Linked DNA regions of Homo sapiens. The protein of the gene in region 1 purifies or fractionates together with the protein of each later gene. This does not show direct contact. Each region holds a gene or a part of one and is shown in the gene's direction. Other genes may lie near its edges. The genes, in order: POU2F1, STAT5B, CDK11B, LMNB1, KRT8, NPAT and EAF2.

The links.
Region 2: the proteins of POU2F1 (region 1) and STAT5B purify together in Homo sapiens (affinity purification with western blotting, with the first as the bait; one study listed by BioGRID). This does not show direct contact.
Region 3: the proteins of POU2F1 (region 1) and CDK11B purify together in Homo sapiens (affinity purification with western blotting; one study listed by BioGRID). This does not show direct contact.
Region 4: the proteins of POU2F1 (region 1) and LMNB1 purify together in Homo sapiens (affinity purification with western blotting; 2 studies listed by BioGRID). This does not show direct contact.
Region 5: the proteins of POU2F1 (region 1) and KRT8 purify together in Homo sapiens (affinity purification with mass spectrometry, with the first as the bait; one large-scale study listed by BioGRID). This does not show direct contact.
Region 6: the proteins of POU2F1 (region 1) and NPAT purify together in Homo sapiens (affinity purification with western blotting; one study listed by BioGRID). This does not show direct contact.
Region 7: the proteins of POU2F1 (region 1) and EAF2 purify together in Homo sapiens (affinity purification with mass spectrometry, with the first as the bait; one large-scale study listed by BioGRID). This does not show direct contact.

What each region holds. Positions count from the first base shown.
Region 1 is NC_000001.11:167,423,386-167,426,885, forward strand, and holds part of POU2F1 (POU domain, class 2, transcription factor 1), read left to right. Parts: 3' UTR 1-3,500. UniProt on the Homo sapiens protein: Transcription factor that binds to the octamer motif (5'-ATTTGCAT-3') and activates the promoters of the genes for some small nuclear RNAs (snRNA) and of genes such as those for histone H2B and immunoglobulins.
Region 2 is NC_000017.11:42,266,392-42,269,891, reverse strand, and holds part of STAT5B (signal transducer and activator of transcription 5B), read left to right. Parts: exon of another isoform or gene 1-1,606; intron 1,607-3,500. UniProt on the Homo sapiens protein: Carries out a dual function: signal transduction and activation of transcription. Mediates cellular responses to the cytokine KITLG/SCF and other growth factors. Binds to the GAS element and activates PRL-induced transcription.
Region 3 is NC_000001.11:1,656,205-1,660,315, reverse strand, and holds the start of CDK11B (cyclin-dependent kinase 11B), read left to right. Parts: upstream 1-1,311; 5' UTR 1,312-1,402; exon of another isoform or gene 1,403-1,860; intron 1,861-2,817; 5' UTR 2,818-2,830; coding exon 2,831-2,941; intron 2,942-3,013; exon of another isoform or gene 3,014-3,051; coding exon of another isoform or gene 3,052-3,060; intron 3,061-4,111. UniProt on the Homo sapiens protein: Plays multiple roles in cell cycle progression, cytokinesis and apoptosis. Involved in pre-mRNA splicing in a kinase activity-dependent manner. Isoform 7 may act as a negative regulator of normal cell cycle progression.
Region 4 is NC_000005.10:126,783,636-126,787,135, forward strand, and holds part of LMNB1 (lamin-B1), read left to right. Parts: intron 1-3,500. UniProt on the Homo sapiens protein: Lamins are intermediate filament proteins that assemble into a filamentous meshwork, and which constitute the major components of the nuclear lamina, a fibrous layer on the nucleoplasmic side of the inner nuclear membrane.
Region 5 is NC_000012.12:52,896,691-52,899,383, reverse strand, and holds the end of KRT8 (keratin, type II cytoskeletal 8), read left to right. Parts: intron 1-399; exon of another isoform or gene 400-484; coding exon 485-705; intron 706-864; coding exon 865-923; intron 924-1,765; coding exon 1,766-1,956; 3' UTR 1,957-2,193; downstream 2,194-2,693. UniProt on the Homo sapiens protein: Together with KRT19, helps to link the contractile apparatus to dystrophin at the costameres of striated muscle.
Region 6 is NC_000011.10:108,184,639-108,188,138, reverse strand, and holds part of NPAT (protein NPAT), read left to right. Parts: coding exon 1-41; intron 42-1,569; coding exon 1,570-1,657; intron 1,658-2,644; coding exon 2,645-2,736; intron 2,737-2,819; coding exon 2,820-2,907; intron 2,908-3,500. UniProt on the Homo sapiens protein: Required for progression through the G1 and S phases of the cell cycle and for S phase entry. Activates transcription of the histone H2A, histone H2B, histone H3 and histone H4 genes in conjunction with MIZF.
Region 7 is NC_000003.12:121,841,709-121,845,208, forward strand, and holds part of EAF2 (ELL-associated factor 2), read left to right. Parts: intron 1-2,744; coding exon 2,745-2,839; intron 2,840-3,500. UniProt on the Homo sapiens protein: Acts as a transcriptional transactivator of TCEA1 elongation activity. Acts as a transcriptional transactivator of ELL and ELL2 elongation activities. Potent inducer of apoptosis in prostatic and non-prostatic cell lines.

The sequences.
Region 1 (3,500 bases):
TTATTGTTCTGACATTATGTAAAGGTGGTATTAATATTGTATGACTTGTCAAAGTGCTAGATAGGTTTATAAGTAGGTAATAGGGATGTTGAAGATTAGAGCACTTGAAACAGAAGTTCTGGGAAAACAAGGTGTGTGTAATGGAACACCACTTTGAGCACAGAAACAAAGGTCCCTTGGACCTGGTAGGGAAGATGTGATTTATGATTGTTTCTGTGTCCCTGTATCTGCCCACCCTGCACAGGGCTCCACCACCCAGGGCCACCTTCTGGTTTAAACCCAGGACACTGTCAAAAAGTTAAGACCCCAAAACTAATTTACTGTAAAAAACATTGAGGACTGCTGCAAAGTTTTCCCTTGTTTTCTTTGTGTACTTGTTCATCATTGTATAAGTTAGCCACAGCTTCACAAGAGCAGCTTAAGGCTTCTTTCATAAATTGGCAGTGGCATTGAGTTCTCAAACATTATATCCCAAAGTCTGCAGGCAGACAGCTGGATACAGCGCTGTGTATAAATGAGACGTCCAAACACTTGAGTTTCTTAAGATTGGGATCTCTTTCAAATGAAAAAGGACAGAGCCAAGTAGAGAAAAGACTTTGTGCTCCCACCCAGCCTTAATGAGTCTCATGGTCTAAAAGTATAGGAAGAAATGAAATGCACTTTCAGAAGCTAAAATGACAGTGTCTGCTACAAAAGGCTGTAGTTGTAGGCAGTCGGGGATGCCATGTCCTTGGTTCCATTCCTGCGTGAGTCTGCAGAAGGCACACACTTTGTAAGAGTAGAGTGGACTAGTGCCAGCCTGAATAGGTTTAAAACTGCAAACAGTTGGAGAACATGGAACAGGTTGGTGCAGGAAGCCTAAGATTTTGCAATCATATTATAACATTGGCTTTTGACAACATAAATGTTGTATCTTCCCTAAGGTCAGGTCGGGGAAAGAAAGACTTCCAGCTTCTTACCTCTGCGTGCATGGGCACGTGTGCATTGCTCAGTCCGCAGGAGGTCTCACTCCGCAGGAAACGCTCTCCTCCCGCATAAGTCTGTACTTCCATCCCCTCATCTGTGGTAGTAGTGAAGGCTAGGTGAGTAAGCGTGGGCTGTTCTACCCACCAGAAGTCCAGGAGCTGTTGTATACCTCATTTCTAACTCGTGACCGAGTGACTTGCTTTAACTTTCTCGAAATCCTACAGAGTTGCCAAGTCTGCCCTCCCTCCTCAGTCATGTTAAACTCTGGCCTATAGCATCATGGGACCTGTAGCCTAGGGTGGGACCCCCTAAAGCCTCTGAATGTCGCTGCTTAAAAGCTACTGCAAACTGAGGGCAAATTGCAATCTTCTATTCCTTTTTGTTGCAAGGGGTCTTCACAGGTCTCTTAACATCTGCTTTCCCTGCCACCCTGCCTTTAGGGGCTGGCCAGCTATCCACACCCCTAACCCACCCTGTGTTTCTGACAGCTGGCCACACGTCAACTTCTGTACTTGCCTTTTCCTTGGTGGGGTAGAGGCCAACCCCTTCTCCTCTGAGGCCTCAGGGTTCTGTTTCTTTTCAGGACTTTGGGTAGAAGGGAAGACACCAAAGGCTCCTTTAAGCTGACTGCTGCATACACATTTCACTTTTTTTCCTTTGACATGACCAAAAATATCCAAATATTTAAGTTTATTATTATTATTATTATTATTTGACAATCTTATATCCAATGGGCTCTCTAGAAGCTGCATCCCCAGCCCTTTCACCTTTTCTTTGAATGTAGTTCCCAACCTTCAATTCCCACCCCTAATGCTGACAAAAAGCTTAGCCAGGTCATGATACTGCTGCTATAAGCCAGGGGAGGGTGGTTTCTTTGTTTTGTTTTGTTTTGTTTTGTTTTTCAAATTTCCAGCCAAAACCAAAGATTTCTTAATGATTGTATAAACTCAAAACAAACAAAAGAACCAAAGAAAAGGGAAGTCTTCAGCATCAGTCCAGTCTGTGGTGTCCTGGCACTTAGAAGAGTGAGGCCAGGGAAGGTGGGGCGGGGGGACCCTCTGACTGGATCAGAAAGGGCAGGCAAGCTGCTTACCACCTTCCAGGGTCCAGCACAGGTGCATGCCCCTAGCTTTGGCCCTCACAAACTTGTGAGCATGCCCTGAAACAAATTGGCATTTCAGATTTTCCAAAACAAAAGTCAAAAAACCCCATCACCACCATCATCCACCCTACACCAACCAGGGTCACTATGGGGACTTAGCACAGGGCCTAGGGAGGGTGGGAGCTGCTGCTGGACTGGCCCGAGGACTCCACAGAGTGGGGGACGTTGAAGACACTGGCGCACGATTGGCTGCTCTGCTGGGTGCTTTAACCTCTGGGGCTGGGCGAATGCACGCCACGGTGCCCTTCTGAGCCTTTTTTTCTTTTCCTGTACTGGAACTGCTTGGAAGTGGCTGTCCTGTTTGTGAGAAAACATGCAGAAAGATTATCAAGCTTTTCATTTCTCTTTATTGTAGTTTTCTTTCCTTTTTGCAGCACCACTGTGCAACTATGCATTGTACTTCACAACCTTTTGTGCTAGGTAGATGCCTGTGACTTTTTAACTTGGGGGGTGGGGGGATTGCAAATGAAGGAACTTTTTACATGGATCTTTTTAATCTCAGTTGGTTGGGGGAGGGGGGTACTTGGTTCTTGGGTCACACAAGCTCTATCCCAAAGCAAAATCCAAATGTTAATAATATTAGCCTGATGCAGATACCAAAGATAATTTCTTTCCTGCAGAACCTTAGACTCGTGTATTAAGTACGATTACCCAGCACTTGCATTAGTCTAACCTCAGTAATTCCAAAGCTTAGATGTATATTTTGGTATATTTCTGGGATATTAAAAAAAAAATGTCGTTTAACTTCTTGTTTGTTTCAGTGTAATGCTCTTAAAGTCATAGCATGAAAATAATTGAACTGTCCTATTCTTAGTAGTTTGAAATAATAGTATTTTTGTATGTTTTGGGTGTGTCTATGTATGTATTAACATAACAGTTTTCACTGCCTAGGTGTTCATAATAAAAAAGAAAATGAAAAAAGTTCTGAGTGTACATAATATTCAATAATAATCTCCCACCAGGTGTCAATTTAGATTGCATATTCCTCATTACTGTTCCCAACTGGGATTTTGTTTTCTTTTAAAGAGACAGTGATCGTGTTTTTCTAAAGATGTTTTCTTTCTCTCTTTCAATATCTTAACTCACTTTTTTTTTCTTCCTTTTTTGTCTTAATTATTAATTCAGGGGTGTTTGTCCACTGTTGTCAAAGGAGGGGCACAAGGGGAATTGGCCCCCGGCCTCCTAGAACTTTTTGTTTTATGTACTTTAAAATGTGAGTTTGAGTTCTTCTTTGTGGAAACTTAAGATGTGGTGTAAATGATTCTTTCCAAAATTGTCCAGCAGCTTGAATGAGGCAGTGACAATTCTGAGGTGGTTTATTGGGAGTCCTTCTACATTTCTCTTAGATAACTCTGCACTCTGGGTGGCTATT
Region 2 (3,500 bases), on another chromosome or scaffold:
ATGTCTAGAGCTCTGCAAAGGCCATTAGAAAATAGTCTCAGATTTTTTTTTTTTTTTCATTTATGATGCTTACTTTCTCTCAGCACTTTTCCTTGGGAGTGGATTGTGAAGTTAAGTCTTGGAAACAGAATTCACAACCCTAAAGCGTAGTGCTTTAACTTTGGGAGATCAAGTCACAGACAAGAAGAACTTCAATTCCCTGTGCAGAGTATAAACTTGTTCAAATAAACAGAGGATGTTAGCTTCCAGGATTGTCAACTGTCACCTTTGACCAGGGTTGAATTTTCTTTGAATGTTGACAGAAGTTACAATGTCAGTGGAAAAAGCTTAATGTGAGGTATCTATAACTCAGAATTTCCTTATGTTTGTGTCAGTGAGATCCTACAATTAAAGCTGCTTCTTTTTTTCTATGTCTGATGAGTTTTAAAAGCCTTCACTGGGGTTTTCCAGCCTTTAGGTGAGAGTAAGTTAAAAAGTTTGTGAGAAACTATTTTTTGTTGTCTAAAATTCAGAGCCTAGGTCGGGCCCAGTGGCTCACGCCTGTAATCCTAACAATTTGGGAGGCCGAGGCAAGCGGATCACGTGAGGTCAGGAGTTGGAGACCAGCCTGGCCAACATGGTGAAACCCTGTCTCTACTAAAAATACAAAAATTAGCCAGGTGTGGTGGTGCACGCCTGTAATCCCAGCTACTCAGGAGGCTGAGGCAGAAGAATCACTTGAACCCAGGAGGCAGAGGTTACAGTGAGCCGAGATCGCACTACTGTGCTCCAGCCTGGGAGACGGAGCGAGACTCCATCTCAAAAAAATAAATAAATTAAATAAATTCAGAGCCTATAGCTGGTGGCAAGTCACTGTTTTTGAAGGAGTGGGATTTTAAAAAATCTAACCTGGGCTAAATGTTAAGTTACATTCATACATGTCATTGTAGCCTATATAAAAAGAAACTTGAACACTTGATCTCTTAAAGTACTAAAAATTGGAATTCATCAGCTTTGTAATATAGCATTCATTCTACAGTATATTTAAATAGGTAAAATGTTCTGTTAGAAATAATGCTAATTCTGTTTTTTTGTTTAATGTTTCTAAAAATCTTTTGGTCATCTTTTAGGTTTAGGAAAAGTAGCAAATTAGAGATCTACAGAAATCTACAGCTCTTTAAAAATGAAACAGTTCACCCTGTGAATTTGTTTGCAGGATTGGTGATCTGTTTCTGATGCCAGGAAGGTGGGACTCCTATCTCATTTCTGATAGAAAGTGAGGGAAAGCTATGTATAGTGAGAACTGGATACTAGATTCTTATTCCGAAGGCATGGAAGGTTTAATATGTAAGGATACAATGTAAATAGTCCCTCTTTTTGTATTTTTCTTTGGTTATTGTTACGTAACTATAGTCGTTTGTCACTTAATGATACATGGTGACAAAGTTCTAAGAAATGCATTAGGCGATTTTGTCATTGTGGTACCATCATAGAGGGTACTTACACAAACGTAGATGGTGAGCCCTACTGCACACCTAGGCTGTATGATAAAGCCTATTGCTCCTAGACTACAAACCTGTGGAACATGTATACTGTATTGAGTACTGTAGACAATTGTAACACAAGGGTAAGTATTTGTGTATCTAAACATATCTAAATATAGAAAAGTTACAGTAAAAACATGGCATAAAGGATAAAAAATGGTACATCTATATAGGGTACTTAACAGGAATGGAGCTTGCAGGACTGGAAGTTGCTCTGGGCAACTCAGTGGGTGAATGGTGAGTGAATGTGAAGGCCTAGGACATTACTGTACATTACTGTAGATTTTAAAAATACTGTCTGGTTAGGCTACATTAAATGTATTTTGAAAATTGTTTCTTTCTTCAATAATAACCTTAGCCTACTGTAATACTTTTACTTTGTAAACTTTTTACTTTTTTTTTTTTTTTTTGAGATGGAGTCTTGCTCTTGTGGCCCAGGCTGGAGTGCAGTGGCGTGATCTCGGATCACTGCAACCTCTACCTCCCGGTTCAAGCAATTCTCCTTCCTCAGCCTCCCGAATAGCTGGGATTACAGGCGTGTGCCACCACGCCTGGCTAATTTTTGTATTTTTAGTAGAGACGGGGTTTCACCATGTTGGCCAGGCTGGTCTCAAACTTCTGACCTCAGGTGATCCACCCACTTTGACCTCCCAAAGTGCTCGGATTATAGGTGTGAGCCGCCGTGCCCGGCCAACTGTTTACTTTTTTACACTTTTAAACTCTTTTGTAGTAACACTTAGCTTAACACATAAACATGTACAGCTGTGCAACAATATTTTCTTTATGTTTTTATTCTTTTACTTTTTCTCTTTTTAAATAATTTTTAATTTTTCAAAACTTTAAAAACTTTTTAATTTTTCAAAACTTTAAAAACTTTTTCTTAAAAGTGAAGGCATAAACACACACATTAGTCTAGGCCTACACAGGGTCAGGGTCATCAGTATCACTGTCTTGCACCTCCACATCTTGTTCCACTGAAAGGTCTTCAGGGGCAGTAACACATATGGAGCTGTCATCTCTTGTGATAACAATGCCTCCTGAAGGACCTGCCTGAGGCTGTTTTACAGTTAACTTTTTTTTTTAAGTAGAAGGAGTACACTCTAAAATAACGATAAAAAGTATGGTAAATACATAAACCAGTAACATAGGCATTTATTATCATTATCAAGTATGTACTGCACGCAATTGTATGTGCTAGACTTTCACATGACTGGCAGTGCAGTGGGTTTGTTTACACCAGCATTGCCACAAACATGTGAGTCATGCATTGCATTACAACATTATGATGGCTACAGCGTCACTAGAGGATAGGAATTTTTCAGCTACGTTTTATTATCTTATGGGACCACAGTGATATATGTGGTCTGTCATTGACTGAAACGTCATTATGTGGTGCCTGACTACATATATGGAAACTCTGAGTGTAGTCATGTTTTACAAATGAGTTTATCTTGCAGTGAGTTTAAATATCAAGTAAAAATACTAATTTCATTGTAATGTATGAAGAGATTGGCCTTTCTCCTCATGTTGAAGGTATCAAAACAAAATAGAAAATATTTGGCTTCCTGAGTGGCATGGCTACAATTCACATGCTGAGTTGGTGATGAGGCAAGATCCCTTGACTTTGCAATACCAGAAAAATGCACATAGTTAAAAAAAAATAGAGACAGGGGTCTTGCTATGTCTCCAGGTGATCCCTCCCACCTCCACCTCCACACCTCCCACCTCAACCTTCCACAGTATTGGGATTACAGGAATGAGTCACTGCACCGGGCCAAAAAGCATATAATTTTAAGGGAATGATTTTTTTTTTTTTTTTTTTATTTTTTGAGACAGTGTCTTGCTCTGTTGCCCAGGATGAGTGAAGTGTGCCAGGAGTGGGTCCTTAAGTAAGAAAACGTATTACTTTAGACACACATTTAAAATTTTGTCCAAAAATGTGATATTCTCAAAATTTATGGTTTTGAATTTTATTTA
Region 3 (4,111 bases), about 170 Mb from region 1:
GCTTCCAGTGACCCGAGATCGCGCCACTGCACTCCAGCCTGGGCAACAGAGCGAGACTCCGTCTCAAAAAAATAAAAATAAAAAAAGAGCTTGGGTACACAAAGCAAGCAGCATTTCATTCCGGGATGAAAAAAATTCCGATACCCATCGCCCTTCTTGGGCCCTTGTCAGTTTCTTGCCACATCTTTCATTTTCCCATTTCAGGCCCAGTAAATGCGGATGTTTATCTTCCATTGTTTGTTTCCTGAGATTCAGATGTCTAAAGCATTTTTCTGTGACTTTTCAAGTCAAGAGGAAAACCTGACATATGGAAAGGGAATTAATTGCTCGTTTTATCCTCTTCTCCTGCAATGCTCTGAATCCATGGGTTTGGAGTGGGGCCCTGGGAGTTGGGGGAAGCACCATACCCAGTGAGTCTGCACTTTGAGGACCCACTGCCAGTGTCAGCTTCAAAATCACATTGTAAAAGGCCGGGCGCGGTGGCTCACGCCTGTAATCCCAGCACTTTAGGAGGACGAAGCGGGCGGATCACTTGAGGTCAGGAGTTCGAGACCAGCCTGGCCAATATGGCGAAACCTCGTCTCTACCAAAAATATAAAAATTAGCCGGGCGTGGTGGCGCGGGCCTGTGGTTCCAGCTACTCGGGAGGCTGAGGCAGGAAAATTCCTTGAACCCGGGAGGAGGCTGCAGTGAGCCAAGACCACGCCACTGCACTCCAACCTGGGCGGCAGAGCAAGGCTCCGACTCAAAAGTAAATACATGAATAAATAAAATAAAATCACATCGTAAGAGCTCTCCCTGCCCTGTTTCTGAGTAAGGTTCAGAGTTAAATTCCGAGATCGGCCTTTACAAGACACACAGACCTGAGGCGCCTCACGAGGTAACCAGCAGGTAAATGGAGCGCGCTCCACCCACCCGCCACTAGGGGTCCCAGCGGTCAAGGGGGTGGAATGCGGGCGTCCATCGCGAAGGCATTCTGCTCGCAAGCCTTGGCACAGGCGCGGGCTTCGCTACCGGAAAAGTCCCGGTAGGATTCCGGAAGCCGGCCACGCGTTCCGCGCAGGCGCAAACTGCTCCAAAAGTGGGCGTCGCTCCTCCGGAGTCCCGATTCCTGCGTCACAGCCCGCGCCGAAGTCGGAAGTGCGCTCACCGGGCTGTTTCTTCTGGCGTCCTGGACCTGAGCAAGCGCTGTTTTATGCGTTATCATCCCGCGCAGACACAGGAAGTGCCGCACAGAGCGAGCCCCTGTCGTTGTCTCGAGTTCTGGGCCGGAGGTCGGCTATTATATCATCATTACGCGCCAATACAGGAAGTGACGATACTTTTGGCGCGCGCCGGTTGCTGTTTCTTCTCTGGCTCCGGGACCGGCGGCGGCGGCGGCGGCAGCGGCGGCGGCGTAGGGGTGAGTTCCGACTGGGCGGACCAGGTGTGGGAGCGCGAGGAGAACTGCGCACCGAGGTCTTTCTTCCGAGCAGGCCTCGGAGCGGGGCGGACCCGGGCCCGGGGGCGAGCGACACCCTCGCTTCCGCGGACAGTCTCATCCCGCACGGAACTTTGGGTGGTGGAGGCGGCGGGTCCAAACGCTGTCTGGAGCCAACGTCTGCCAGGCTGAACCTCAAGTGTGCGGGACTGAACCCGAGGAAATAGCCCAGTGCCCGGGTCAGGTGGCCTTGTTCGCGAGCACATCTCGGAGCATCTCCCCGGTCTCAAGGTGCAGCTGTCCAGTGTGCTAGTGGCTTCACGTAGTCCAAGCGGTCTTTCTAGCAGATTCTGACAGTAAAAGCAGTGTTTGATGAGTGGCAGGTCCTGAGTTAAGAGCCTTTAAACGGATGATCTTTAATCCGCGATCGATACTATCACGTAGGTGTTGTTATTCTGGTTGTACGGAAGACTAAACTGAGGTGAATTACGTTACCCAAGACCATACAAGAATGACAGAAACGAGACTTGATTTCAAGCGGTCATTTTTCAGAACCCATCACTCTTTTTTGTCGCCCATGCTGCAGCGCAGTGGCTGTTCACAAGCGCACTTCAGCCTGGAACTCCTGGGCTCAATCGGTCTCCCATCTCAGCTTGCAGAGTATATGGGACTACAGGCGCTCGCCACCTTGCCTGGCTTACAACTTATCATTCTTGTTTTTTTTTCTTTTTTTTTTGAGACGGGGTCTTGCTGGAGTGCAGTGACGCGACCTCGGCTCACCGGAACCTCCGCCTTTCGGATTCAAGCGATTCTGCTGCCTCGGCCTCCCGAGTAGCTGGGATTACAGGCACCCGCCACCACGCCCAGCTAAGTTTTGTATTTTTAGTGGAGACAGGGTTTTCGCCGTGTTGGCCAGGCTGGTCTTGACCTCCTGACCTTGTGATCCACCCGCCTCAGCCTAGAGCTTACTTTTTTTTTTTTTTTTTTTTTTTTAACCAAGTCTTACTTTGTTATCTAGGCTGGAGTGCAGTGGCGCAGTCTTGGCTCATTGCAGCCTTGACCTCTCTGATTCAAGTGATCCTCCTGCCTCTAGCAGCCTCCTTCCTGTAGCTAGGAATACAGGCACGCGCCACCACACTGGGCTAACTTTTGTATTTTTTGTAGAGACGAGGTTTTGCCATGTTGCCCGGGCTGGTGTTGAACTCCGGAACTCCAGCGATCTGCTCGCCTCGGCCTCCCAAAGTGCTAGGGTTACCGTCTTGAGCCACTGCGCCGGGCACAACTTCTTATTCTTAATGAGGATTTATTCTGAATCCCTCAAAAGTGACTAGGTTCAAGTGTTCAGCACCATAGCTTGCTGTGTCCTGATGTAGGCTGAATTATTTTTCTTTTTGCAGTGTTTTAACTCAAATGGGTGATGAAAAGGACTCTTGGAAAGTGAAAACTTTAGATGAAATTCTTCAGGAAAAGAAACGAAGGAAGGAACAAGAGGAGAAAGCAGAGATAAAACGCTTAAAAAATGTAAGCCATATTTTTTAAGTAAGTGGTTTTCTTAAAGGAGATTTAATTTCTTTGCCCTCATTTTTCCATTAGAACAACGCTTCTTCGGTGAAGTTCTTTTGTACTTCCAAATGTCGCAGGTGAGCCCAAAATCTATTCTAAAAATTAACAAAAACATTCAAATATTCAGTTGACATTAAAGGCAGATTTAACACACTAAAGCTGTGTCTAGATTGAGCATACATGGAGAATAAAATACGTTGAATGTTAAGTCATTAGCAAAACTGGACTAATTTTTCTCGGTTCATTAGTATGTTCATAATACTATCTCTAAGTATTTTTAATATAGTGGGAACTTGCCTTGAAATTAATATAAATATTTTACATCTTTCTTGGTTTGCATGGTAATGTACTCAGGAAACCTTTTTAGTAATTTGGTAAGAGGCATTGGCAAAGTACCTCTTTTGCTAAGATCTTTAGCAGCATCATTTGGGATGTTAGTGAGTACAGGCATACCTTGTTGTATTGCACTTCACTTTATTATGCTTCACAGATATTGAAATTTTTCCAAATTAAAGGTTTGTAGCAACTCTGCATTGAGCATTTTTCCAATAGCATGTGCTCACTTTGTTAGCTTTTTTTTTGTTTTTGAGACGGAGTCTCGCACTGTCGCCCAGGGCCGGGTTCACGCCATTCTCCTGCCTCAGCCTCCCAAGTAGCTGGGACTACAGGGGCCCACCAACATGCCAAGCTAATTTTTTGTATTTTTTAGTAGAGATGGGGTCTCACGGTGTCAGCCAGGATGATCTTAATCTCCTGACCTCATGATCCACCCACCTCGGCCTCCCAAAGTGCTGGGATTACAACAGGCATGAGCCTCCGCGCCCGGCCTTTTTTGTTTGTTTTTGAGACAGTCTTGCTCCATTGCCCAGGCTGGAGTGCAGTGGCATGATCTCAGCTAACTGCCACCTCTGCCTCCTGTGTTCAAGCAGTTCTCCTGTCTCAGCCTCCTGAGTACCTGGGACTACAGGCACCTGCCAGCACGCTCGGCTAATTTTTATATTTTTAGTAGAGACGAGCTTTCACCTTGTTGGTCAGGCTGGTCTGGAACTCCTGACCTCAGGTGATTCACCTGCCTCACCCAGCCTCCCAAAGTGCTGGGATTACAGGCGTGAGCCACCATGCCTGACC
Region 4 (3,500 bases), on another chromosome or scaffold:
GAGACTAGGTAATATTTTGCATACCCAGATTCAAGGAAGTAAACAGGCAGAATGAAAGATAAAGCACTATTAAAATATGGTGGGTCTTTTCTTTTTTGTGTCTTTACACAGTTGCTGGTTATATTTATTCTTTCGTTTGTATAGATGGTGTCACCTCTGATATGTCTGAGTTAGAAATCTTCAGACTTTTTTTTTATGCCATTAGTGTAAGTCTCTTTCATGTACAAATGTTGAGAATGAGCCTCAGGTATCAGTTGAGTAATGGGACCCTGTATAGGTCCCATTATTTTTAGGATCAGGGAAGTTTTTAAAATCAGTTTTAAACCCTTTTTACAGTGTACCTCTTTGATAAGGAGATTGTGCTTTGGCTGTCATTTGATTTTTTTTTTTTTTTTTTTTTTTTTTTGAGACAGAGTTTTGCTCTCGTTGCCCAGGCTGGAGTACAGTGGTGCGATCTCAGCTCACTGCAACCTCCGCCTCCCGGGTTCAAGCAATTCTCCTGCCTCAGCCTCCCAAGTAGCTGGGATTACAGGCATGCGCCACTACACCCGGCTGATTTTGTATTTTTTTTTTAATAGACTTGGGGTTTTTCCATGTTGGTCAGGCTGGTCTGGAATTCCCAACCTTGGATGATCCGCCCGCCTTGGCCTCCCAAAGTGCGGGGATTACAGGCGTGAGCCACCGCACCTGGCCGGCTGTCATTTGAATTTTTATTATTTTATTTTATTTTATTTTTTTGAGGCAGGGTCTCGCTGTGTCGCCCAGGCTGGAGTGCAGTGGTGCGATCTCGGCTCACTGCAACCTCCGCCCCTCCAGGTTTAAGCAATTCTCTGCCTCAGCCTCCGGAGTAGCTGGGATTACAGGCACGTGCCACCACGCCCGGCTAATTTTTTGTATTTTTAGTAGAGATGGGGTTTCACCATCTTGCCCAGGCTGGTCTTGAGCTCCTGACCTCGTGATCCACCCGCCTCGGCCTCCCAAAGTGCTGGGATTACAGGCGTGAGCCACCGTGCCTGGCTTGAATTTTTTTTTTTTTTTGAGACGGAGTTTTGCTCTGTCGCCCAGGCTGGAGTGCAGTGGCGCCATCTCGGCTCACTGCAAGCTCCACCTCCCGGGTTCACGCCATTCTCCTGCCTCACTCAGCCTCCTGAGTAACTGGAACTACAGGCGCCCTCCACCACGCCGGGCTAATTTTTTTTTATATTTTTAGTAGAGGCTGGGTTTCACCGTGTTAGCCGGGATGGGCTCGATCTCCTGACCTCGTGATCCGCCCGCCTCAGCCTCCCAAAGTGCTGGGATTACAGGCGTAAGCCACTGCCCTCCGCCCGAATTTTTAAAAATTAATTTTATTATTATTATTTTTGAGACGGAGTCTTGCTGTGTCACCAGGCTGGAGTGCAGTGGCACAACCTTGGCTCACTGCAATCTCTGCCTCCCGGGTTCAAGTGATTCTGCCGCCTCAGCCTCCCAAATATCTGGGATTACAGGCACCCGCCACCATGCCCGGCTAATTTTTTTTTTTTTTAATTTCTAGTAGAAACGGGGTTTCACCATGTCGGCCAGGATCATCTCGATCTCCTGACCTCGTGATCCGCCCGCCTTGGCCTCCCAAAGTGCTGGGATTACAGGTGTGAGCCACGGTGCCCTGCCTAAAAATTAATTTTTTTTTTTTTTAATAACTGAGTCTTGCTCTGTCGCCAGGCTGGAGTGCAGTGGCACGATCTCAGCTCACTACAGCCTCTGCCTCCCGTGTTCAAGCAATTCTCCTGCCTCAGCCTCCTGATTAGCTGGGACTACAGGCACACGCCACCACGTCGGCTAATTTTTTTTTTCTTTTTCTTTTTCTTTTTTTTTTTTTGTATTTTAGTAGAGACGAGGTTTCACCAGGTTGCCCAGGCTTGTCTTGAACTCCTGAGCTCAGGCAATATCTGCCTGCCTCAGCCTCCCAAAGTGCTAGGATTACAGGTGTGAGCCACGGTGCCAGGCCAAAAATTAAATTTTTTAAACAGCAAATGTATATTCATTATAGAAAAGGAGAAAACACAAACACCAAGAAGAAAATTCTTGGTTGGGCCTTAGGTTGGGCCCAACCCTTAGGTTGGGACCAGCGGCTCATGCCTGCAATCCCAGCACTTTTGGAGGCCGAGGTGGGCGGATCACCTGAGGTCAGCAGTTCGAGACCAGCCTGGCCAACATGGCAAAACCCTGTATCTACTAAAAATACAAAAATTAGCCGGGCATGGTGGTGGGCACCTGTAATTCTAGCTACTTAGGAGGCTGAGGCAGGAGAACTGCTTGAACCTGGGAGGCAGAGGTTGCAGTGAGCCGAGATCGTGCCACTGCACTCCAGCCTGAGTGACAAAGCAAGACTCCCTTTGGGGGGTGGGGGAAAAGATGCAGGAAAAAAAAAAGCTGACATTTATTTTGTGCCAATTCTGTTTGCCAGGCATTACAGTAGATGCTTTACAGACATTATCTTTTTTTTTTTTTTTTTTTTGATGCAGAGTCTGGCTCTGTCGCCCAGGCTGGAGTCCTGGAGTGCAGTGGCACGATCTCGGTTCACTGCAGGCTCCATCTCTTGAGTTCACGCCATTCTCCTGCCTCAGCCTCCCAAGTAGCTGGGACTACAGGTGCCCGCCACTACGCCCGGCTAATTTTTTGTATTTTTTAGTAGAGACGGGGTTTCACTGTTAGCCAGGATGGTCTCGATCTCCTGACCTCGTGATCCTCCTGCCTTGGCCTCCCAGAGTGCTGGGATTACAGGCGTGAGCCACCGTTCCCGGCCAGACATTATCTTTTAAGCTCATGATAACTGCTGATGAGTAAGGAAACTTCAGGCTCAGAGAGTTTAAGTATTTTGCCTGGTATTACTTAGCAAGTAATGAAAGCTAGAAAGGATGGTAGCCTGACTTCTAGCATTGTGATAGGGTGTTCACATACATAACCTTATTTCATCCATACAACAGTGTTCTACAGGTATTACTCTGGTTTACCGACATGTAGCAGGCTCACAGAGCATCATTATCTGTGGTTGGTACTTGAAGTCTCAGATAGGATAGTTGATTTTCAGATCCCTTTGGGTGCTACTTTTGGAAATGCTACTAGTTGCATGTTTTTCACGTTGATAGTTTGTAGCCTTCAAGGGAGGTAATTTTGGATTTGTCAGAAGGGTAGTGGTCAGTAGTTGAAACAGCTGTTTGAAATACTGAGGGCTTCATTTGCTAAAGAAAGGTGAAGATGAATTACTGAAAGAGATCGCTTTTATCTTTTTTCTCTTCTTAAAAAGCTACTTTCCAACTTTATTCCATGCCTTAATAATTTAAAAGAAATTAAAACCTCTAAATAAATCTTTAATACTCATGACAGGGTGTTCTTTCATTCTTTATTCAAGACACATTTTTGTGGAACAGGTACTATATGCCAGGTCTTGAACCAGATGCTGGGAATAGAGAAATGGGATACTCAGTCCCCATTATCAAGTTACTTACAGTCTAGTGGGG
Region 5 (2,693 bases), on another chromosome or scaffold:
AGCACCTGGAAACTGCTCATGTCTCCCTGATCTGCTTCCTTAGTCTCGTTTATTTATTTATTTATTTTTGAGACAGAGTCTTGCTCTGTCGCCCAGGCTGGAGTGCAGTGGCGTGATCTCGGCTCACTGCAAGCTCCGCCTCCTGGGTTCACACTATTCTCCTGACTCAGCCTCCTGAGTAGCTGGGACTACAGGCGCCCGCCACCAGGCTGGCTAATTTTTTTTGTATTTTTACTAGAGACGGGGTTTCACTGTGTTAGCCAGGATGGCCTCGATCTCCTGACCTTGTGATCTGCCCGCCTCGGCCTCCCAAAGTGCTGGGATTACAGGCATGAGCCACTGTGCCCGGCCCTTAGTCTCATTTAATTTGAGCTGGGGGGAGTCAGCCTAGGTGGTGGTGGGGAGGACCCTGAGGGAGGGTGGGAGCACGGGAGAAGAGAAGGCATACCCAACCTGACCTACTTACCTGTCCCCTACCCCACAGAGGGCTTCCCTGGAGGCCGCCATTGCAGATGCCGAGCAGCGTGGAGAGCTGGCCATTAAGGATGCCAACGCCAAGTTGTCCGAGCTGGAGGCCGCCCTGCAGCGGGCCAAGCAGGACATGGCGCGGCAGCTGCGTGAGTACCAGGAGCTGATGAACGTCAAGCTGGCCCTGGACATCGAGATCGCCACCTACAGGAAGCTGCTGGAGGGCGAGGAGAGCCGGTGGGTGTGGGTACCTCTGACCGGACCTGCTTCCCTATCCCTGGGACCTGGGGTGGGGACGGTGGGAGCCCCCTGAAGCCCCTTGGGACTTGGGGTCCTGTTGTTCTGGGCCAAGAAGGGCTAGGAGTTGGTCCTGACACCCCATTTGTCTGGGTACAGGCTGGAGTCTGGGATGCAGAACATGAGTATTCATACGAAGACCACCAGCGGCTATGCAGGTGGGTGTCCCAGGGCCCTGGGATGAGGGCGGGAGGCAGGGCCCAGGGAGGCCTCAGCTCCAGGGAGGGGGCTGTGCTCAGTCGCTCACAGTGACCTCAGCCTGAGCACTCATGTTCTTGGGAGAATCCTAGGGTGGGGAGGCACATATTCAGGACCCCAGTAATAACTTTATTACTTAGTAACTTTACTATTAGAAAGCACCCAAATAAACCATAGCTGTGTGCCAGGCACTGTGCTAAGTATCCTACAGGTTTTATGTGATTTATTTTATTTATTAATTTAATTTAATTTTTTTGAGACGAAGTCTCGCTCTGTCACCCAAGCTGGAGTGCAGTGGCGTGATCTCAGCTCACTGTAACCTCCACCTCCTGGGTTCAAGAGATTCTCCTGCCTCAGGCCTCCCAAGTAGCTGGGACTACAGGCGCATACCACCATGCCCAGCTAATTTTTGTATTTTTAGTAGAGACGGGGTTTCACTGTGTTGGGCAGGCTGGTCTCGAACTCCTGACCTTGTGATCAGTGCTGGGATTACAGGCATGAGACACTGGGCCTGGCTGTAATTTATTTTTTATATGACACCTGTAAACGTCTTCAGTTGAGGAAGCTGAGGTGCAGCTAAATGTCCAAGGTCACACAGCTATATATATGGCAGCTGTTTTCCACCCTGCTCCTGGTTTTCCCTGACAGTTCTGGAGTAGTGAACCATGCAATCACTGATCAGGCAGAGCTGGGTTAACCTCCCATCCCTGGGGCTATGTTGGGAATGAGCAGGGAGAAGGGGCATGGAGCCTGCCATGGGGTGGGCTTCTGTACTCATGTGGCTACCTCTGTCCCTCACCAGGTGGTCTGAGCTCGGCCTATGGGGGCCTCACAAGCCCCGGCCTCAGCTACAGCCTGGGCTCCAGCTTTGGCTCTGGCGCGGGCTCCAGCTCCTTCAGCCGCACCAGCTCCTCCAGGGCCGTGGTTGTGAAGAAGATCGAGACACGTGATGGGAAGCTGGTGTCTGAGTCCTCTGACGTCCTGCCCAAGTGAACAGCTGCGGCAGCCCCTCCCAGCCTACCCCTCCTGCGCTGCCCCAGAGCCTGGGAAGGAGGCCGCTATGCAGGGTAGCACTGGGAACAGGAGACCCACCTGAGGCTCAGCCCTAGCCCTCAGCCCACCTGGGGAGTTTACTACCTGGGGACCCCCCTTGCCCATGCCTCCAGCTACAAAACAATTCAATTGCTTTTTTTTTTTGGTCCAAAATAAAACCTCAGCTAGCTCTGCCAATGTCCTTGCTTGTGTGTGCATCTGATGTCCACTGGGGTGGGAGGGAGGTGGTCAGGAGGCCTCTTCTTGGGACTGAGAAGCTGGGAGGGGTCCAGGAAGCAGGGGGTGCACAGCGGGAAAGTCTGACCCCCTCAGCTGTTCCTAAAGAGGCTCCTTTATTGAAACCTGGTTGAAACCTTGCTTGTTGCCATAGATATCTACACCTGTATAATAGTCATTGACCTGTGCACAGTGCTTTCTGGTTTACAGTGTGCTTTCAAATCCCAAGGTTCATGTGATCTGTGCAGCAAGGCTCAAGAGGCAGGCAGAGCAAGTTTTTGAGGGCATTATCAGCAGAGAGCTTAGTGTGCTTCCCCTACACCTTGGCATCAGGACTATCTGCATATAAGGAAAGCCAGGCTCAGAGAAGCCAAGTAGTTGGCTCATCTAGAAACTAGCAGATTTGGCATTGGAACCCAGAGCTGTCCAGCTCTCAGGCTTGTACTCCTCCTTGGCCAGGC
Region 6 (3,500 bases), on another chromosome or scaffold:
AAAGCACATGCCAGTTTAATGTCTCCCGGTAGACGCAAAAGGTAAATGCTTTTTAAAAGAGACAAGTTACCCGTATCCATTAAAAAAAAAAAAAAAGAATTACATCAGGATACTTACATTGTGAATAAACTAATAGGACCAGATTATGTTCTGATCTATATTAGAACTATTCCAAAATACATTGTCTTTCTTCACATTTTAACCTGCCTGAAATTGGGTTGCATCTCTCAATTAATGGCATATCACTGTTTCATGGGAAATATGTTTATTCTGTAATGGTATATAAAATAATGGTATATCTTACAAATGATGTTATCTGAGATTTTTTGCAATCCATGTTTTTTAACTGAATGTAAATAATACAGTTATGTTCTATGCTCCACACACATTTAAAGTCCTAAGATCAATTGATGGAATTTTTCCAGGCACAATCTTTGAGAAAAGTGTTTTTCCCAAAACACTTTTGAGAAAAGTGTGTCTTTGTTTGAAGGATATTTTTTGAAAGAGATAATAGTTTTAAAATGTTTATTCTAGTTTCTTAGCTCCCAAGCCCTGGGTATTTTTGTTAGAGTTTTTACTTTTGGTTGTCTTTCATTCAAGACTGACCTTAGTTAGCCTCCTTTATTGGAGCCTTTCTCACTTCACCATATAAAATAACAAACAGCAATATCCATTTTTTTATTTTTAGAGATAGGGCCTTGCTGTCTTGACCAGGTTAGAGTATAGTGGTACAATCATAACTCACTGCAGCCTCGAACTTGTGGGCTCAGAAGATCCTCCCACCTTAGCCTCCCCAGTAGCCAGCAGCACAGGCACATGCCGCCACACCCAGCTAATTTTTTTATTTTTTGTAGAGATGGGGGTCTCACTTTGTTGCCCAGGCTGGTCTGAAACTCCTGGCTTCAAGTGATCTTCCCACCTTGGCCTCCAAAATTGCTGGGATTACAGATGTGAGCCACCATGCCCAGCCATAAAAGAGCAACATTAATATTTAACATTTATAGGAACCCTGACTTTTTAAATAAAGTCTTTATATATACTTTATTTCATTCCATTCTTTAGTAAACCCAATAATGCAGTTGGTCATTATAAAGTAGGTTAGAGAGTCAGAGCTTGCTGTGCTTCAGACCATAGGTAGTAAGTGGTAAAGCTAGACTTCAAACTCATTTTTTTGAATTCAAGACTACTAATACTTTTTGTACTTCCCTTTGTTCCTAACACAAATAGAGAAAATATAGTTGACCTTGAATAACATGGGTTTCAACTGCATGGGTTCATTTATACTCAAGTTTTTTTCAACCGAACACAGATTAAAAATTTAGTAGTAAAACCTGCCTATATGCAGTGTGCTGACTTTTTGAATACATGGGCTTCCTAGTGCAGACTGTAGGACTTGAGTACATGTGGATTTTGATATCCTTGGGGGTCCTGAAACCAGCCCCCTGCAGATACAGGGACAACTGTATCTGTTCTGTTATGGTGATCTTAAAATTTATGTCTGTATATGTATTTATCTTTAAATCTGTTAAATATAGTGGTTAAAAGAAAAGCTTTTAAAATGTGTTTCAGTGAATCTCAGAGAAAAAGTACCACTTTGTCTGGCCCTCATTCAACAATACGGAATTTCCAAGATCCAAACGCTTTTGCAGTAGAAAAAGTAAGTGACTCTGCCAAACTTTGCAACTTAAAATATTCCTGAGTTTAAAAATACAGATATATACACAAATGTATGTATGTGTGTATGTATCAAATAAAGAAACAGGAGTAAGTTTATAGATATCTGTAAATACATTGTTGTTGTTGGATCATTTAATAAAATACTGGCCAGGTGCTATGGCAAACACCTGTAATCCCAGCACTTTGGGAAGCTGAGGTGGGCAGATTGCTTGAGCTCAGGAATTCAAGACCAACCTGGGCAACATGGTAAAACCCCCTCTCTACAAAAAATACAAATATTAGCTAGGTGTGGTAGCACGTGCCTGTAGTCCTAGCTGCTTGGGAGGCTGAGATGGGAGGACTGCTTGAGCCTGGGAGGTCAAGGCTGCAGTGAGCCATGATCATACCACTACACTCAAGCCTGGGTGACAGAGTCAGACCCTGTCTCAAAAAAAAAAACTGGCCGGCGAGTAGTGGCTTGTACCTGTAATCCCAGCACTTTGAGAGGCCAAAGCCAGCGGATCTCTTGAGGCCAGGAATTCAAGACCAGCCTGGACAACTGTCTCTACTAAAAATACAAAAATTAGCTGGGTGTGATGGCACACGCCCGTAATCCCAGCTACTATTCAGGAGGCTAAGGCACAAGAATTGCTTGAACTGCGAGGTGGAGGTTGCAGTGAACTGAGATTGTGCCACTGTACTCCAGGCTGGGCTATAGAGCGACACTGTAAAAATAGGGCATTTACTGGGGTTTGATGATGAGTGTGGAACTGTATAAGAAAGAGTTGGTGAAAGATCTGTGAAAACATTTGCAAATTATGAAGTGTTGTATTCAGGTATTAATATGGAGGGAGCCATCACAACTTCTGAGTTTCCATTTAGGTTTATTAAAACTATCCAGCTCTTATCGGTTTGTTCTTTTCTTATAAATATTAAATAGCAGAATACTCTTTATTGTCCTTTTGCTAACAGTGGCTTTCTTTTCCAGCAAATGGTTATTGAAAATGCACGAGAAAAAATACTAAGCAACAAATCTCTTCAAGAAAAGCTAGCAGAAAACATAAATAAATTTTTAACTAGGTAAGCTATATATGTTTAAAATGCCTAATTGTTTTTGCCTAATTGCATAACTATAATAAAGATTTTTCTTTCTTTATTAACAGTGATAACAATATTGCCCAAGTACCTAAGCAAACAGATAACAACCCTACGGAGCCAGAGACTTCAATTGATGAATTCCTAGGACTTCCGGTATGGGTGGTTGGGGTGTGCATGGGTGCGTGTGTGTTACTTATACTTAAGATTGATGGTAATTTTGGTTTCATTTCAAAACCATTGCCAACATAAGATGTTATGATTTGCCATCTAATTAGATAAAATGATTTACAATAGTAAGATAAAACTTTTCTTCATTCATTGAATGCAGTCTGTTCCTGAAAAACACATTGGATGATGACTTAAAATAGAATCTATATTGCATCCACAGTCATGGATTCCTAAGTATTCAATACTTAAACATTTATTAGTGGGTATATTTGTGTGTAATAAACAGTAATACAGTGTTTATATAAATTACATTTCTTCTACACTGCTACAAATTGTATAATAATTTAGAGAAACAATGAAATGATACAATAAAGATATGTAATGGGGCCAGGCATGGTGGCTCAATGCCTGTAATCCCAGCACTTTGGCAGGCCAAGGAGGGCAGATCACTTAAGGCCAGGAATTCGAGACCAGCTTGGCCAACATGGTGAAATCCCATCTCTACCAAAAATACAAAAATTATATGGGCATCATGACACATGCTTGTTATCCCAGCAGCTCGGGTGGCTGAAGCAGGA
Region 7 (3,500 bases), on another chromosome or scaffold:
CTAAAAATATAAAAAATAAGGCCGGGCGCAGTTGCTCACGCCTGTAATCCCAGCACTTTGGGAAGTCGAGGCGGGCGGATCACGAGGTCAGGAGTTCGAGACCAGCCTGACCAACATGGTGAAACCGTCTCTACTGAAAATACAAAAATTAGCCGGATATGGTGGTGCACGCCCGTAATCTCAGCTACTCAGGAGGCTGAGGCAGAAGAATCGCTTGAACCCGGGAGGCGGAGGTTGCAGTGAGCTGAGATCGCACCACTGCACTCCAGCCTAGGCGACAGAGAGACTCCGTCTCAAAAATAAAAAAAAAATAAAAAAATAAAAAAATTTCCGGGTGTGGTGTCATGTGCCTGTAATCCCAGCTACTCAGGAAATTGAGGCAGGAGAATCGCTCGAACCCGGAAGGCAGAGGTTGCAGTGAGCCGAGATCTAGCCACTGCACTCCAGCATGCAGGACAGAGTGAGACCCTGTCTCAAAAAATAATAATAATTAATAAAGTTGCGGATCAACAAAGTCCACTAGTATAGGCACCCACATAGGGCATGACGATAACTTATTTATAAATAGTGAAAGATTTTATGAGGCAGTTACTTCATTTATACTGTATATATCCATATTAAATGACTTTGGTTCTTATTTTAGATTCATAAATGGTATTTGATAGCCCAAACTAAAGTTTTTTTCTCTCTTTGTTGACATTGATATATCTTGGCCAACCTTTCATCTTTTTTATTCTAACTGGGTTTTGCAGTTCGTTTTTCTAGCTTTAGAAAACAGTTGCATGATCTTGGGCAAGGAACTTAATTTTTTTCCACCCTCACTTCCCTTATCTGTAAGATGGGGTATTCACTACTTTTCAGGATTGGTGTGAAGCTTCAAAGTAAAAATCATCAGGAAAAACTTTTAAAATTGATCAGCATGTAATAGCTGTTATTGTTGTTTTTGTTCATATCTGTGTTCATTCTCTTAGATTTTCTGGCTTCTTCTACTTTATCTCTGTGATACTTACTCAAGTTCAGTTCTGATTTTTTTCTCCTCAATAGCACTGTCCTTTCAACAATTGACATTATTTAAAACTTATTTCCCTCAGTCCAAACCCTTTTTCAAGCATCTAAAACTTAACACCTTAATTATACCTTTCACTTTTCTCACTTTGCCACTGCTAACAAACTCCTCAACTTATTTTCAGTCTAATCTTTATCCTTTGACTCTTCAGTTATACTTTCTAGGGATATACTGTAAATCAAAACTCTTTCACATTTTCATATTGCTTATGTTATTTTTATAACTGTATCTTAAAATCTAGGAATAAGCATCAAGATCTTATTCAATTTTTAATTAAAGCAGCATGAAGAATATATTATAAAAATACTTTCTGTAAATTGTTTATATTCATTTGCATTTATGTTTATTTAAGGAATAGAGGAATGGATTTCATTTATTTCAGAGTTGTTATAAGAGGTAAATATGAAGTGTTAAGCATGGTGCCTGGCATGTAGTAAGTGTTCCATAAATGTCAGCTATTTTAATTGTCATCGTGAAGCAGGGCCAGCCTTTGTTTATTTACAGAGCAATAATTTGATGATTATTGGAAAATTCTCCTTTCCCAAGGTTTTCTAATTATAATTCCCTAAATTCCACTTATAAATATCCATTACTTTGGATTTAGACTTTCTGTCTTTGGGGCCTTTTTGTTAATATGAAGATTAATCTTTTGGAACAATGGGTAATAACTGGGAGGGGGCTCCGTGGAGCTGGTAATGTTCTATTTCTTGATTTGGTTGGTGGTTACATGTGTCACTGTGTAAAAGTCAAAGCTTAATTTTTGTTCTCTTTTGCATTATACCATATTTTAATAAGGAGCTAATGTATATATAACACAGGGAACTATATATCAGAATTATTAGCTGTTGATGTATATTCGTATGAATTAGTTTTAAATGGCTTTAATTGCTTAGAGGGTTTTAAGCTTGTTTAACATGTGAAATATCTTAGTACCCTGAATTTCCTCCTAGATGATAGATTTTAATGGCATCGTTTGAACTATGATTTAACTCAAAATTAAATTGTATTTTAAGATCTTCTAAAGTGACAGATTTGGTTAAATTATACATCATTTAGTGGTGTACATATTCATGAAAAAAACTGTTAAACTAGAAAGATTACTTTTTCTTAAGTTTCTTCATTAATATGTACTGTATTTGCTATGTATTCATTCATTTTGTTTGGATAGAATGACAGACAAGTGGTAGTAGAATGACAGACAAGTGGTAGTAGGCACCAAAGGTGCTTTAAAAAAAATTTATGGGCCAACATTCATGAACTAAGTCAGCAGCCATTAAAAATGACATAAAAAAGAAAAATTTATTGGAAAAAAGGACTGAAAATTGAAAACATTCTACCTATATCAGTTTTTTAGCAAGTTGTGAAAACACTGACATTATTTAGTTTTTAGCAGTAGAACATGTTAGTCAGGTTCATCTTGTCTAAACAGGATTCTATGGAAGCATGAGTGTCAGTAATTCTGTTTTAGAGTATAGCTATTTCTTTTTTCTCAGAATTATGCATACAGAAATAAATAAACTAGATTGTATTTTGTTTGTTCATTTGTAATATGAATACTTTAAACCATTTTAATTACAAAGCTCTTGAAAAATGATTTATCATTCTGAAACATGCTCATAATTTTTATATCCAAATATCATTACATTTTACAAAAATTGGTATTTGTATCTATTTTTAGATGACTTCAAACCTGCTTCTATTGACACTTCTTCTGAAGGATACCTTGAGGTTGGTGAAGGTGAACAGGTGACCATAACTCTGCCAAATATAGAAGTGAGTATTTCTGTATCTTTAAAGTGATCACTTTTGTGGGATTCTCAGTAAATTTAAATGAAAATAATTGCACAATTTGTGTAGTGATAATTGGTTAAAGTAATTAGTAAGCACAGATAAGCAAAAACCATATTTTAAACTACTTTAGGCAAAAAAAACTTAAAATACTTTAGTCCATTTAATAGTTCCAAGAACTATCATAGCAAATGATTTGAAAAAAAATTAGAGTCTAAACAAATATTTATTAAATTCCTACTATAAGCCAGATTTTAAACACTGACCTTAGGATAGTAACATATCCCTTGCCTTCTAGTCCTAATCTTTTATAGCAGACAGACACATAACATCTAGTGTTATAAGTTAGAGCATATATGAAATTCTATGTAACCACATAAGTAGAAGCAAATACTCTGCCTGGTGGAATCTTAAAAAGCTTCATAAAGCAAGCAATATTTCAGCTGAGCCTTTAAAGGACAAGTAAGATTTTATTGGGTAGACAAGGAGTAGAATAAGCAAACAGAACAGTATGTGAAAAGCTCTGATGCCGAAAGAACAAAGAGTTTGTGGAATAAGTGACTTTACGTAGTAAATCATAGTATAATGAAAAATGGGATGGGCGCGGTGGCTCACCCCTGTAATCCCAGCGCTTTGGGAGGCCGAA